Regions from separate parts of the Homo sapiens genome. Here region 2 is linked to region 1. A link means that fine-mapping ties the variant in region 1 to the expression of a gene that starts in the linked region. Tissue or cell type: sigmoid colon. Region 1 holds a variant in brackets; the other region holds the start of a gene. All regions are shown on one strand. Distances are between the middles of the regions.

Evidence for each region. PIP is the estimated chance that this variant, and not a neighbour inherited with it, causes the effect.
Region 2: it holds the start of MRGPRD, and the variant in region 1 is fine-mapped to the expression of MRGPRD in sigmoid colon (GTEx, PIP 0.95).

What each region holds. Positions count from the first base shown.
Region 1 is chr11:69,018,639-69,023,843 of GRCh38, reverse strand. No RefSeq gene overlaps it. Among named protein-coding and RNA genes, the nearest start is that of MRGPRF, 8.0 kb to the right of the region's middle. The variant G/A (reference allele first, on the strand shown) is at 2,922.
Region 2 is chr11:68,978,111-68,983,236 of GRCh38, reverse strand. MRGPRD (MAS related GPR family member D) reads left to right here and starts at 2,251. Exons shown (of 1, transcript NM_198923.2): 1 at 2,251-3,216. The coding sequence starts at 2,251. The coding sequence ends at 3,216. RefSeq lists an enhancer at 2,762-3,271.

The sequences.
Region 1 (5,205 bases):
AGAAACAGTAAATACCCGAGCCATCTTGGCAAGACACAGGCATGTCAGCCAGTGGGAAATGAACCCCACAAAACGCCTAACATCTCAGTGAAGTTTCTAGGGGTACAATGGTGGGGGGCGTGTTGAGATAGCCCCTTGAAGAGGAAGACCAGTTGCTGCACCAGGCACCCCCTCCTGTTAAGAAAGTGGCATGACCTTTGGTGGGGCTCTGGGTTTTGGTGCAGCTTACACCTCATTCAGGTGTGCTCTTCCGACCGACTCACTGGTAACCTGCAAGGCTGCTGCCAGTTTCAGGACCCAGAATGAGAGAAGCCTCTGCAATACATCCAGGCTGCTTTCAAGCTGTCATGCTATTGAGCCCAACAGACCCAACAGATCCAGTGGATCTTGAGGTGTCCGGGGCAAGTAGGGATTCTGTATGAGGCCTCTGGCAGGCTCCAACAGGTGTCACAGAAGAGACCACTGGGATTTTAGAGCAAAGACATGTCCTCTTCTGAAGATAACTATTCTCCTTTTGAAAAACAGCTTCTGGGCTGGGCGCGGTGGCTCACACCTGTAATCCCAGCACTTTGGGAGGCCAAGGCCAAGGCGGATCACCTGAGGTCAGGCATTCAAGACCAGCCTGGCCAACATGGTGAAACCCTGTCTCTACTAATATATAAAAATTAGCCGGGCATAATGGCAGGTGCCTGTAATCCCAGCTACTGAGGAGGCTGTGGCAGGAGAATTGCTATGAACCCGGGAGGCGGAGATTGCAGTGAGCCGAGATGGCACCATTGCACTCCAGCCTGGGTGACAAGAGTGAAACTCTGTCTCAAAAAAAGAAAAGAAGAGAAGAGAAGAGAAAAGTCCAGGTGCGGTGGCTCACGCCTGTAATCCCAGCACTTTGGAAGGCCAAGGTGGGCAGATCACAAGGTCAGAAGTTCAAGACCAGCCTGGCCAATATGGTGAAACCCCATCTCTACTAAAAATACAAAAATTAGCCGGGCGTGGTGGTAGGCGCTTGTAATCCCAGTTACTCAGGAGGCTGAGGCAGGAGAATCGCTTGAACCCGGGAGGCAGAGGTTGCAGTGAGCCAAGATCCTGCCACTGCACTCCAGCCTGGGAGACAGAGTGAGACACTGTCTCAAAAAAAAAAAAAAGAAAGAAAGAAAGAAAAAGAAAAACAGCTTCTGGCTTGCTGTTGGACTAAATGTGTCACATTTTCCCACAGGATCTGAGCTGCCCACCCGAAACTAGACGGTAACCAATCCAACACATGATACAGGTAATGTGTGCTGTAGCACCGTGATCAGGTAGAAGTGGGCCACGTGAGCTCAGACTTGAGCAGCTCCTGAAGTCCGTTGCACAAGCAGATGGCCCAGACTCCCGTGCACCCCCTTCACTGCAGAGCTCCTCCCCGCCTCCACATGAATGATCTCATGGGAGTCCCTTATGACCAGCTGACCAAGAAAGAAAAAACTCCAGGTCTGTTTTATGTATGGCTCGCTGGCATCGCCTGAAAGTGGGCAGCTGGAGCTCTACTGCCCCAGTAAGGGTGGCCCTGAAGTGTCCGGGGACAGACTTGCAAACAGTGCACCTGGTTGTTCACATTACACAGAAGGAGAGATGGTCAGAGATGTGAGTCTACACTGATTCATGGGCAGGATCTAACGACTGCTCCGGAGCTTGGAAGGAACACTATTGGACAATTAATCCAAGGTCTCGGGAAGAGGCATGAAGGCGAATCCCTTTTAATGGGCATAAGGGGGGCAGATAGCTCTTTGTGTCCCATGTAAATACTGGCCAACGGTCAGCCTCCCAGAGACGGCTCTCACTAAACAGGTGGACCGGATGACCTATTCCGAGGATGACACTCAGCCTGTTTCTCTGGCCACCTGGTTTCCCATGAGCTCAGCCATGTGAGCTTCCCCTGGCCAAGGCTGACCATCTACAATCACTGTTGAGATCCTACAGGCCCATGATGGGACATCATTTCCCAGGGGACAGCCAGCCACCTCGTGCGTGGCAGGTTGATTTCCTTGGACTGATTCCACTTGGAAAGGGCAGAGATTTGTTTTTCCTGGAATAATCACTTGGTTTTTTGTTTTGTTTTGTTTTGTTTTTGAGACAAAGTCTTGCTCTGTCGCTCAGGCTGGTAGCTGGGATTACAGGAGCGCACCACCATGCCCGGCTAATCTTTTTTGTATTTTTAGTAGAGACGGGGTTTCATCATGTTGGTCAGGCTGGTCTCAAACTCCTGACATTGTGATCTGCCTGCCTTGGCCTTCCGAAGTGCTGGGATTACAGGCGTGAGCCACCGCACCCGTCCAATCACTTGTTTTGAATATGGATTTGTCTTCCTTGCCTACAGTGCTTCTGCCAGAACCACCATCCATGGGCGTATGGGACCTTACAGATCATTAGTGTATTCCCCACGCATTGCTTCTGATCAAGAAGCTTAGTTTTCACAAATGCAATGGACCCGTTGGCTTGTACCCACTGAATTCTCTGTCTTGCCAAGTTCCCCATCATCCTAAGCAAGGAGCAGTTTTTGGACACAGGAATGACCTTTTCATGGCAGACGATGACATGTTGTGGGACCACAGGATGAAGTGTAGGCTCTGAACCATCAACCCCTGAGCCCACCAGCACAGAGGGGGTCACGGCACCGGCTGAGGTGGCTGGCCCTCATGGGTTGCTATGATGGAAATGGGAGACCCATGCCTAGAATCCAGGAGATTCTCTGACATATCCCATAGCACTCTGGTGTCCCATGGTAAAAAGTCACAGGAAACTACAGCAATGCAAAAGAGGTAGCCCCACCCAGGGCACAGATCCTTCGAGAATGAAGGCCTGCATCCTGGCTAACACGGTGAAACCCTACTCTACTAAAAATACAAAAAATCAGCCAGGTGTGGTGGCACATGCCTGTAGTTCCA[G/A]CTACTCGGGAGTCTAAGGCAGGAGAATCGCTTGAACCTGGGAGGCGGAGCTTGCAGTGACCCAAGGTCATGCCGCTGCACTCCAGCCTGTATGACAGAGTGAGACTCCATCTCAAAAAAAAAAAAAAAAAAAATGAAGGCCTGGATCGCCCCACCAGGCCAAGAACAGTGACAAGCTGAAATGGCGGGTGGGCAAAGGCAGCGTGGAACGTGCTGGGGAAAAGAGGCCTTATCTGTTCCTTATCACGGGAACAAGGTTTGCGGTGGTTGCTTGTGCTCTCACCCCTGCTTCGGTATGCGTACATGGTATATATTACTGAGTTCTTTTTCCTTTCCCTCCCTCCCATTCCTAGTCTATCTGATGTGTGTTCATAGCTGTCAGCCCTATACCTAGCATTGAAGTTACAGAATGTGCAAGGCAGGTGTGGCTTAGGAAGGACAGAGATGGACATGACCCAGATATGGATCAAGGGACAAATGGGGACGGGCGCAGTAATCCCAGCACTTTGGGAGGCCGAGGCAGGTGGATCACCTGAGGTCAGGAGTTTGAGACCAGCCTGGCCAACATGGTGAAACCCCCTGTCTCTACTAAAAATACAAAAATTAGCTGGGTGCGGTGGTGCGTGCCTGTAATCCCGGCTCCACAGGAGACTGAGGCAGGAGAAACACTGGAACCCGGGAGGCGGAAGTTGCAGTGAGCCGAGATCGTGCCACTGCACTCCAGCCTGGGCAACAGAACTAGACTCTAGCTAAACAAAAAAATATATAAATTGCTAAAGATAAATTTCATACTATGCACAATTTATCACAATTTTAAAAAATGTTCCTGGAATTAAATATTTTTAAAGAAGCAAAAGTGACTTGAAATATACACACCAACACACCTACACCCATCCCCCAGTCAGTGTTATCTGTTCAGCCATCCCATGGAATCAAGCCTTGGGGAAATTCCAGATTCAAGAGATGCGTTCGAGGCTGAACATTCAGAAGTTTTGTCTGGAAATAGCTGCTTCTGATAAAAAGTTTATAGGAAACATGGTCTCTCCCAAACAGAAGACCCCAGATCTCTCAGACTTGAGAAAGCAAGAGTTTTGTACTAGTTTTGCACCAGTCTCAGGGGAAACTGTGACGAAGTTTGATTGGGTTTGAAGACATATTTGAGTTTTGTTTGCGTACCAGTGGCAGGCCCAGAAGGAAAGCCCGCACGTGACCTCAGTGTTCAGTGCAACTTCAACTCCTGTTTCCCTCTCTCTTGCTGCCCCAAAGCAGGAGTGAGCTTCCCGCCAGGCCCCTGAGGGTCCGACAGCCATCCTGGCAGCTGCTCTCAGCCTGTCTCTGGCTGCTCAAGCCACCCTCGCTGAGGACCTACCTAGGGTTTGCAAGTGTCTGTTGCCATAATAATCCACAGAGAAGGCAAGGGCAGTGGTAAGCTGAAGACAGGACCCCTCAAAGCAAAGTGGGAGAGAATTCTCAGAACTCTTTTCCTTCCCTGTAATGTTTCTTGGGGTCACCCCCTAAAATAAACTCCTTGCACCTCCCCACTAAAAGGTTAAGTCTCGTTAAAAGAGTATCCGCATGGCAAATTGACAGTTGGAGTGTGCTGGACCTGGACGGCCTCTCAGTCCCATGACCTCCTCCTATGGCTGGAAACTGTTCCCCGAGTCCCTTCCATGACAGATGCTGGGTCAGAGTTTCTCAATGAGAAGGGCTCGTGGTGAGGTTTGGAAGGTGAGTCAGTTGGGACCCGTGATTCCCAGGAGGCCATGGCGCCCAGATGCAGTGGCTTCACAGACCTCCCCACGAGCTCTTCCTTCAGGCTTGTGGCGGCCACACGGGGCAGCTTCCCAAGCTCTTCCAGCTCCAGTACCCACACAGGGGCTGGCCAAAGTCCCAGTGAGCGTTCCTCTGATTCTCTGACTACAGCTTTCCAGACTCGCACGCCTCAGACCTGCCCACGCCACGTGTGAACCCCTATTTCCCTGATAGTGTGATGTGTCTGTTTCTTGACCCAAGTCAGGGCCGGGGGAGGAGGAGGGCAGGAAGGAGAGAGACTGAGGAAGAGGGACAGGGAGATGCTGCGGGGAACCTGTCATTAAAAGGAGCACATCAGGCAGGGCACGGTGTCTCACACCTGTAATCCCAGCACTTTGAGAGGCCGAGGTCGGGGGATCACATGAGGTCAAGAGTTTGAGACCAGCCTCACCAACATGGTGAAACCCCGTCTCCACTAAAAATACAAATATTAGCCAGGCGTGGTGGCACTGCCTGTAGTCCCAGCTACTCA
Region 2 (5,126 bases), 41 kb after region 1:
GTTCTATGAGCTTCTACTGAAAACTTGAGAGTTTCTTTCTTTTAGGAATTCCAAAAATTTGCTCTAAAATTTTAAGGAAGAATAAAGATTCACAAATGGCTAATTCAATTTTGGCAAACAAAGTTAAAGAAGGGACATGCATCTCATAAAATAAAATGACATAGCAGAAAGACATATTTAAAAAAAAAAACAAAACAAAACACTGTGTTAATGTTGTAGGAACTGAGAGACAAACCAATGACACAGAATGAAGAATGAAATTAAAAACCCAGTCCCATGTGTAAATGAGAACTTAATAAGTCAATAGGGAAAGGACAGACTGTTTAGGAGACAGTGTTAGGAAAGCTGATCCATACTATGGAGGAAAAATCAAGCTCATAAAAAATAGATTCCAGTTGGATCCAAGAACAAAATCTGAATGGGAAAAACTATAAAAGTAATAGAAGAAAATAGAAAAGACTACATTTTTTATCCAGGGAGACAGAATACTTTCAGATTTAGAAGACACAAAATTTCAGAGAAAAAAATTCTGAAGAGTTGGCTATACCAAAATTTAGGATGTCTTCCAACCAAAGTTCACAATAGATAAAGTTGCCATAAAAAACAGAGCGTTCTCAGAGAAAAGTATCTGCAATGTCTAAATCCAGGAAGGCATTAATACCTAGAAATACAAGCAACTCTTGCAAATCAGAAAGGAAAAGAAAAGAAACCCAATTGAAAAATGGACAACAGGTGTGAACAGACAATTTGAAGAAGGGGAACTCCAAATGGCTAACAGATATATGAATTGATGCTCAAACTCACTGTAATCACAGAAATGCAAGTTAAAACATCTACAGTATATCACTTTGCAACCATCAGGTTGGCAAAAGTTAGAAAAACAAATAACACCAAGTGTTGGTGAGAGAATGGGAAAACGTAAACATTCCTATTCTGCTGGTACAGGTGAAACCTGAAGCAGCCACTCAGAAAAAGAATTACCAGGCAATATTTAGTGAGACTAAATGTGCATATGTTCTATGACCGAGCAATCCTCCTCCAAGAATGTATCCCAGAAAAATATTGAGTCAAGTCCAATGGGTACATGCATGAGGATGTCCAACACAGTGTTTTGGTGATAATGGGAATTTTGAAGCAAGCTGAGGATCCACAGTAAGGAATGGATAACAGATCAATGTGCATGATGACATTTTAAACCACAACTTTTGCATACAGCCACCTGGATATATCCTACAAACATATTGTCAAGTGAAAAATAAAAAACCCATCATTAATTCTAAATCACAACATTTACGTAAATTTAAAACACAATGGGCAACCACTCCATCTTGAAAGATATTGAGGTGTCCAAGGATTTGCGTGAAACAGGTTGGATGGATGCAAGCGGCAGGAGGAAAAAGGCAGCTAAGATGGGATGGGGAAGGAAACTTGAATAAATGGAGGGTTTTTAATGGGCTGATGCTCATGGTGTGTCTTAAACTAAGGAGTGTAGTTAATTCTACACTTTGCCCTGAGGTCTAATTTTTTTTTTTTTTTAAGAGACAGCATCTCGCTCTGTCTTCCAGGCTGGGGTGCAGTGGCGGGACCATGGCTCACTACAACCTCAATGTGCCAGGCTCAAGCGATCCTCCCGCCTTGGCCTCTCAAGTAGGTGGGACCACAGGTGTGTGCCACCATGCCTGGCTAATTAAAAAAAAAAATTGTAGAGATGAGATCTTGCTATGTGGCCCAGGCTGGTCTCAAACTCCTGGCCTCAAGCAAACCCCAAAGTGCTGGGGTTACAGGCATGCACCACCACGCCCAGCCCTAAGGTCTATTGTTTTTTTAATTAACTCACAGGGTTTGACAATTACAGGAGAAAAAAAAAATGATTTCAAATGTTTCTATCAAATAGTTTTTCTACATCTATTGATAATAATGATTTTTCTATAATAGATGTAGAAAAAGCATTTGATAAAATTCAATACCTCTCCATGATTTAAAAAATAATTCAAAGCAAGATAGAAGAGAATTTTTTAACCTGATAAAGGGTATTTATAACAGCTTTGTAGCTATAAAGGTGACCCTGGAGGCAGATCTGGGCTGAGTGAGTCACAGGAGTGGGGGAAGGTTAAGCCTCCCGGTCATGGTCTGTTACATAAAGAACCTGGAGGGGAGAGCTCTGAAGCTGGAAATTCGAGGGGCACCCAGGGGTCCCCCGTGGTCCCAGCAACACAGAATTTCACATTGGTACATCTTCCTCTCGTAGGGATGAACCAGACTTTGAATAGCAGTGGGACCGTGGAGTCAGCCCTAAACTATTCCAGAGGGAGCACAGTGCACACGGCCTACCTGGTGCTGAGCTCCCTGGCCATGTTCACCTGCCTGTGCGGGATGGCAGGCAACAGCATGGTGATCTGGCTGCTGGGCTTTCGAATGCACAGGAACCCCTTCTGCATCTATATCCTCAACCTGGCGGCAGCCGACCTCCTCTTCCTCTTCAGCATGGCTTCCACGCTCAGCCTGGAAACCCAGCCCCTGGTCAATACCACTGACAAGGTCCACGAGCTGATGAAGAGACTGATGTACTTTGCCTACACAGTGGGCCTGAGCCTGCTGACGGCCATCAGCACCCAGCGCTGTCTCTCTGTCCTCTTCCCTATCTGGTTCAAGTGTCACCGGCCCAGGCACCTGTCAGCCTGGGTGTGTGGCCTGCTGTGGACACTCTGTCTCCTGATGAACGGGTTGACCTCTTCCTTCTGCAGCAAGTTCTTGAAATTCAATGAAGATCGGTGCTTCAGGGTGGACATGGTCCAGGCCGCCCTCATCATGGGGGTCTTAACCCCAGTGATGACTCTGTCCAGCCTGACCCTCTTTGTCTGGGTGCGGAGGAGCTCCCAGCAGTGGCGGCGGCAGCCCACACGGCTGTTCGTGGTGGTCCTGGCCTCTGTCCTGGTGTTCCTCATCTGTTCCCTGCCTCTGAGCATCTACTGGTTTGTGCTCTACTGGTTGAGCCTGCCGCCCGAGATGCAGGTCCTGTGCTTCAGCTTGTCACGCCTCTCCTCGTCCGTAAGCAGCAGCGCCAACCCCGTCATCTACTTCCTGGTGGGCAGCCGGAGGAGCCACAGGCTGCCCACCAGGTCCCTGGGGACTGTGCTCCAACAGGCGCTTCGCGAGGAGCCCGAGCTGGAAGGTGGGGAGACGCCCACCGTGGGCACCAATGAGATGGGGGCTTGAGAGCCGCCCACAGGTGCTTCCCACCTGTGCGAGCCCATGCCCTGGAGATTCCCGAGCCGTGAGCTGCCTCCCACCTCGTCCCTGCCAAGTGTCTGGCCCGCCTTCTTGGGGGAGCCCCAAGGACTTTGCAGCTGCATGTGGGGGTCACTTCCCTGCATGTCAAAACTCCCCACAACACCTGTGTCCTGGATCTCACAATGCAACCCCGCTGGAAGATGCAATTTATTTGTTTATAGCAGATTATCTGGTTGGGGGAAAATATTAGCTTTTAGCCCTACCCTGCTTTAAGCTGGTTATCTATGGGTGGATAACAGGAATCTCATTTGAATATGAAAGCTTTCTCCCAACCACCTTCTCTGCCTAAGACGGCATCTTTGTGGAGGAGGCAGGTGACCTCGGGTGATCTTTGGCCCTATGCTGGTCCTTGGGTGGCATCAACTGGCCACCAAGGTGGTGCCCCCGTGCACCTTTCCCCAGGTGTGCCTGAAGTCTGGCAAGTAAACGGTGTCGCCATCGCCGACCCGGATCTCGCTGGCTGTGGGCCATGAGACTCTGCCCCACCATCCCTCTGACCCCTGGCCAGCCCTTGACCCCTGGCATTTGCTATGAGGTCGCCTTACCCTGTCACCCCTCGCACCCAGGGCAGGCCTGTTCGCTTTCCTCCAGGCCGCACTGGGAAGGGAAGAGCCTCTGCCTGGCTTCACTGGCAGTCACTCCAGCAGATGCTGATAGGACAGTGCCCCAGGCAGTGGAGGGCAGCCTTCCAGGCAGTGTCCCCCAGAGCCAGAGTCTCATACCTCACTGACTGTCCCTCCCAGGGCCCCCTCACTTTGCCCAAAAGCCCAAAGACGGAACATCTGGGACACACATCAGCTGGCTCCACTCTCCTCCCTCCCCCTTTCCTTCCCACAGTCCCCTGGGTCCAGAACAAGGCAGATGTTTCCTGCACTTTCCACAAATCACAGCCCTTTCCTACCACCCAGCATCCAGCCTCGAGGCTCGGGGCTTGCATGGAGGGGGTGCAAGACAGGAGGTCCCTGCAGAGTCAGTCCTGGACTTAAAGAGGTGAGGGAGGAGGAAAGACGGAAGTGGAAAGATCCTGTCTCCAGACCACAGCCTGGCCTGCAAGCCTGGCACCTGGCTGCGTCATCCTGTTTTTCATGTCAGAAGGTGAAAATGATCTTGTTCTTTCTCTTGGCATCTTTCTGAAGCAGTTTTCAGTCTCCTCCCAAAAGATGGAGCCTTCGAGCCAGCCAGGGCACAGGTCAGATCCTGAGACAGGAGAGGACAGCTCATCAGTAAGCTATAAAATACACCCCTGGAATCAACTCTCACAGCCTGCGGTTCTGTGCCGTGGCAGGTGATGGTGTCCTGGGGACTCGAAGACTGTGCCCTGGACAGGACTCCCCTTCCTGGGCTCCCCCTGTTTGTTCATTGCCCTGGGCTGGGGGCTGTGCAGCCCTCCCAGAAGGAGAAATTACCTCTGAGTGCTTTCCCACCTAGGGCTCAGGCCCCCAGGTCTGTGTGTCCCAGAGAAGCATGCGAGGCAGAGTGGTGGCTCTTTCTCAGTCGTTCCAGCATTTAGCGGAGCACTTGGTACCAGCACTGGCCTCAAATGCCAGATGCACTTAACAAGTGCTCATTTGGCCAGTAAGAGTAACTGATGCCTGTACAGTGCTTTACAGCCCACGTTTTGTCCAGGATCCAACCCATATCTTCTGACTACAAACCCCATGCTTCACAACCCTTCTCCAACCTGGGCAGCCACGAGGTGGCCCAGTCTAAAGCCGACGGTTGGTAGGAAGAACATCTCGCTTCTTAGCACTCAGTGGCTACCACAGGGCCCCTCATTTGCAAGGGGAGGAGCCCTAGAAATTGTTCACACAATGATGTTATGTTTCGATAAAACA